2 separate regions of the Homo sapiens genome follow, and region 2 is linked to region 1. Evidence: fine-mapped expression QTL. Tissue or cell type: cerebral cortex. Region 1 holds a variant in brackets; the other region holds the start of a gene. All regions are shown on one strand. Distances are between the middles of the regions.

Region 1 (2,902 bases):
TCTGTTTCCCCAGCACCTGTCATGCGAAAATAATTTAACATATTTGTGCACAGATGCTTGAGTGTTTTTAAAAAGTCATATGTAATAAACCTTTGGAAGCCACAGACCCCAGTGCCTCTGAGATGAGACTGGCATGTGGTAAGGCTGTGAGCCTAGGAGGCACGCGTTTAGAGCTTCAAGGATGTTAGTGGTTTCTTTCTGACACCAGATCTCAGCAAGCTTCACTCCTGGCACTAGGAGCCTCCATATTTAGCATTGCCGGAGAGGATGACGATGGTGGTGATGAGCTCAGAGAGTTAACATCTCAGAGGTTAAAAACCTCACTGCTGGCTACACAACAACGTGAATGTACTTAACGCTACTGAACTATGTACCTAAAAATGGCTAGGATGGTAAATATTCTGTTATGTGTATTTTACCAAATTTTAAAAACAAACAAACCACTAGTTGATGGTGGAATGTCAAATCCAGCACTTTCTGATTCCAAGGCCCACATGGTATTTCTTGCCTCTGGGATGTGGCATTTTCAAGCAGCCTTTTTATCACATATCCTAAATAAAAATGATCTCTTCAGAAGTAAAATAAACAAATATTCTCATCCCACCCTGGTATGGCAAGACCTGGAAATAGAACAAGCATCTGTGGAATTTCCCTCTAGATAAGACATTGTCCGCCCCTTTTAAAAGCTGATCTGAACTGGAGGCAGAGCTTGCGTGTTGAATTTGGAAGACTTACATCAGTCCTCAGGGTTGCAGGCAGCGTTGAGTACAGCACACACTACTCCGGCCTGACCTGTCCCTCCTCTGTGGCCAGAGAGGGTGGGTTGTCAAACAGGAGGTAAGGATTCCTCTGGGTGCTTCTAAGAGCATCTATTTTATTTATTTTTTTATTTTTCCATAAGTTATTAGGGGCACAGGTGGTATTTGGTTACATGAGTAAGTTCTTTACTGGTGATTTGTGAGATTTTCGTGCACTCATCACCCAAGCAGTATATGCCGCACCATATTTGTAGTCTTTTATGCCTCGCCCCCTCCTCTCCTCCCCCCAGGGAAATGCAAATCAAAACCACAACGTGATGCCACCCGGCTCCTGCAAGAAAGCCCATAATCAAAACATTAAAAAACGGTAGATGCTGGTGTGGATGCATTGA[A/T]CAGGGAACACTTCTCCACTGCTGGTGGGAATGTAAACTAAAACAGCCACTATGGAAAACAGTGTGGAGATTCCTTAAAGAATTGAAAGTGGAACTACCCTTAGATCCAGCAATCCCACTACGGGGTACCTACCCAGAGGAAAATAACTCAATATTCAAAAAAGACGCTTGCACTCACGTGTTTATAGCAGCACAATTCATAAGAGCATTTATGTTAGAAAGGAGCTGAAGCATGATGATCTGCAGGCAAGCAAGGAGTTATGGGGGAAACTAAAATGCTCCAAACACAGGGGAGAAAAGGCCCAACAGAGAAGACAATTTCCCCATCATAGGATGGCAGGGTTTATGCATCCTACATCCTTTAATCTCCAGCACCACCCTTGAGGCACGTGTGACTTTTATCACCGTTTTATTGATGCCATAAAGAGTCAGTGGTAAAAGGATTTTCTGAAGGTACCACTGACATTGTTCTGAGTCCTCCTCGTCCTAGTCCCTGTCAAGGCCACGGTGCAAAGGTGCCTTCCATGACCCTCATACGTGTCTTCAAACATGCTCACACAGACAACCACGCTCAAAAGCCGTCCACACATGCACCACACACAGCACAACACAGACACACACACCAGACACACATGCAGCAGACACACCACATGCACCACACGGCAGCACCTCCATACCACACACTGTACACACACTACACACCACACACAACCCACACACACCATGCATCACACACACCACACACACACCACACACTACACACTACACACAACCCACCCACATCATGCATCACACATACCACACACACTACACCCCACATACACCATACACACTACACACTACACACACCATGCATCACACATACCACACACCACACACACTACACCCCCCCACATCATACACGCTACACACCACACACCACACACAACCCACATGCACCATGCATCACACATACCACACACCACACACCACACCCACACACACTACACACTACACACAACCCACCCACATCATGCATCACACACACCACACACACTACACCCCACATACACCATACACACTACACACTACACACACCACACACTACACACACCACACACACTACACCCCCCACATCACACACGCTACACACTACACACCACACACAACCCACACACACCATGCATCACACACACCACACACACTACACTCCACACACACCACACACACTACACACAACCCACCCACATCATGCGTCACACATTCCACACACACTACACCCCACATACACCATACACACTACACACACCATGCATCACACATACCACACACCACACACACTACACCCCCCCACATCACACACGCTACACACTACACACCACACACAACCCACACGCACCATGCATCACACATACCACACACCACACACCACACCCACACACACTACATACCACACACAACCCACAAACACCACATACACACACCGCACACACCAAACACATACTATAAACACCATTGACACCACACACACACCAAATACACCACACACCACACAACCACACATCCACACCACACACATCAAACACAACAAATACACACCACACAAACTACACACACTACACACCACACGCACCACATACCTCGCACACCACATGCACACTACACACCAAACATAACCCACACACACCACTCTCGCACCAAACACTACACACCACACAAACCACACATCCACACCATAAACACCAAACACAACAAATACACACCACACACAGC
Region 2 (2,902 bases), 5.1 kb after region 1:
CAGGTGATGACCGCCTGTGCCTCCTGTCCCTCCCAGGAGATCCCACAGGTGATGACCGCCTGTGCCTCCTGTCCCTCCCAGGAGATCCCACAGGTGATGACCGCCTGTGCCTCCTGTCCCTCCCAGGAGATCCCACAGGTGATGACCGCCTGTGCCTCCTGTCCCTCCCAGGAGATCCCACAGGTGATGACCGCCTGTGCCTCCTGTCCCTCCCAGGAGATCCCACAGGTGATGACCGCCTGTGCCTCCTGTCCCTCCCAGGAGATCCCACAGGTGATGACCGCCTGTGCCTCCTGTCCCTCCCAGGAGATCCCACAGGTGATGACCGCCTGTGCCTCCTGTCCCTCCCAGGAGATCCCACAGGTGATGACTGCCTGTGCCTCCTGTCCCTCCCAGGAGATCCCACAGGTGCTGTGGTTGTGCTGATGGAGGAGTGGTGACAGGGACGCAGGCAGAGAGGGGCAAAGTCTCACAGGGGCAGAGGGTGTCTGTGCCAGGTGGAGGGGCCTGGGGAGGAGATGGAGTGGCCTCTCGTGGAGGGGCAGGTACAGGAGCCAGGCAGAGCCCAGGGACAGGCCCATGCCAGCACCAGCCTGGGATGTGAAGGGATGACCTCAGGGCAGAACTCTCAGTGCAGAGCTCAGCACAGAACAGGACACCATCTGGGGAGAGTGGAGGTGCCGCTCATGTAACTGAGCACTGAGGACAGAGGACACATTCCCAGGAGCCTTCTGCTGGAGTCCACACAGGGGAGGGAGGGAGAGGGGGAAGTGCCCTTTTTCTTGTTTATCCTGTGATTCCATGGCTCACTGCCGTTTCCACAGCCTTTCCACTCCCCAGAAAACTGTGCAGCTCCGTTAATGATTTTCTCCAAGACCTTGCAGCTGATAACTGAGCCAAGGCCCAGTCCTGGACTCTGACTTCAGGATCCCACATGGGCTCCCGTGTACCATGAAGCCACCCGGATGGCCGTGGACAGACCCTTCAAGAGACACTTACCGCTGCTCTTCATTGAGTTCCAGCTGCAGTCCTCAAGGGGGATGAGGGGCATTTGTCCCCACCCTCAAGGGACATTTGGCAATGTCTGGCGTCGTTTCTGGTGGTTGCACCTTGAGGAGGGGCGCATATGCTCCTGGCATCTGGTTTTCTAGTGGGGAGGCTGGGGATGCTGCCAAGTGCCCTCCAATGCACACAGCGGCCACGGTGGAGACTGCAGCCTGAAAAGTGGGTGGTGTTGAGGCCGATACTCTGGCCCACCACGATGCCATGTCCTCCCTCTGACAACCACAATCAGGAAGACTTCTTCAGCTCGTCCTTGTGCCCCCAAAGTCCTCGTTCCCACGGGCCCCCAGGAATGGTTCTGGGAGTCCTTCGTCGCTTTCATGGGGGTGGTATGAGGCACTCCAGCTTCGTCGTGCCTTGTCTGCACCTTGTTCCCAGCACCGTCCTTCCTGAGCCCAGGGAGTCAGAATCCACAGTCTTAGAGTCTCCACCAGCAACATCTCAGCTCAGCTGAGGGTCATTCCTACTTTCAGAACAGGCTGACAGTGGGGCAGCCAACCACTCTGCCCACGAACCCCAGTTCTCCGTCGCTCACCACTCTGCCCACGAACCCCAGTTCTCCGTCGCTCACCACTCTGCCCATGAACCCCAGCTCTGCGTCGCTCACCACTCTGCCCACGAACCCCAGTTCTCCGTCGCTCACCACTCTGCCCACGAACCCCAGCTCTGCGTCGCTCACCACTCTGCCCACGAACCCCAGTTCTCCGTCGCTCACCACTCTGCCCATGAACCCCAGCTCTGCGTCGCTCACCACTCTGCTCACGAACCCCAGTTCTCCGTCACTCACCACTCTGCCCACGAACCCCAGTTCTCCGTCGCTCACCACTCTGCCCACGAACCCCAGTTCTCCGTCGCTCACCACTCTGCCCACGAACCCCAGTTCTCCGTCGCTCACCACTCTGCCCATGAACCCCAGCTCTCCGTCGCTCACCACTCTGCTCACGAACCCCAGTTCTCCGTCGCTCACCACTCTGCCCACGAACCCCAGCTCTGCGTCGCTCACCACTCTGCCCACGAACCCCAGCTCTCCGTCGCTCACCACTCTGCCCACGAACCCCAGTTCTCCGTCGCTCACCACTCTGCCCATGAACCCCAGCTCTCCGTCGCTCACCACTCTGCCCACGAACCCCAGTTCTCCGTCGCTCACCACTCTGCCCATGAACCCCAGCTCTGCGTCGCTCACCACTCTGCCCACGAACCCCAGTTCTCCGTCGCTCACCACTCTGCCCACGAACCCCAGTTCTCCGTCGCTCACCACTCTGCCCACGAACCCCAGTTCTCCATCGCTGCGGAGATGCTTTGGAGCCACCGCTGGGGGGCCCTCTCCAGCCCACCCCAGCCTCCTGACACAGTCTCCCCCGAAGACTCAGCTTCAGTCCTCCCCACAGAAAACTCAGAAACAGGAAATGAATAAAGGACCACAGGCTTGGCTGATTGGCAGAAGACAATGGAGGAGCTAGTGTTTGACAAAACAGTAACGACACCTCTGATGGCAGAGCCGCGCAGTTAGCATCTTCTTCCCAAATACAGCAAATTACCCAGCAAGGGCAGGAAGCTTTGGCAGAATTAATCACTACCTGGAAAACAATTTCACACTAGAATAAACAGGAGAGAGAGGGAATAACAAATGCATTGCATTGTCCAGTTGTTAACCTGGGCCTTGATATATATTAAAAAACAAGGCAATTACTTCCAGCAATGACAGAAACTCATCTTGTTTAGCAAAATAAGATAAAGAAGTCTGGGGGTGGAGAGCCAGCGATCTGAGCGAAGACATCCTGAGATGATAAATATCTCATGTCAAGCCCGCACTCAGCCGCAGGCTTCTTGGAACAGAGGC

Alleles and levels. Alleles are on the strand shown, and positions count from the first base shown. SD is a standard deviation of normalised expression in the study named.
For the expression in cerebral cortex of the gene that starts at base 1,597 in region 2, allele T in region 1 goes with a lower level than allele A (moderate effect, 0.65 SD a copy in GTEx).

What was found.
Region 2: LINC02714 starts here. The variant in region 1 is fine-mapped to the expression of LINC02714 in cerebral cortex (GTEx, PIP above 0.99). The same link has a PIP of 0.9 or more in anterior cingulate cortex and prefrontal cortex.

What each region holds. Positions count from the first base shown.
Region 1 is chr11:134,739,772-134,742,673 of GRCh38, reverse strand. The region is part of intron 1 of LINC02714 (long intergenic non-protein coding RNA 2714); the gene reads right to left. Among named protein-coding and RNA genes, the nearest start is that of LINC02714, 5.3 kb to the right of the region's middle. The variant A/T (reference allele first, on the strand shown) is at 1,151.
Region 2 is chr11:134,734,640-134,737,541 of GRCh38, reverse strand. It overlaps LINC02714 (long intergenic non-protein coding RNA 2714), which reads right to left and starts at 1,597. Exons shown (of 2, transcript NR_147836.1): 1 at 1,000-1,597.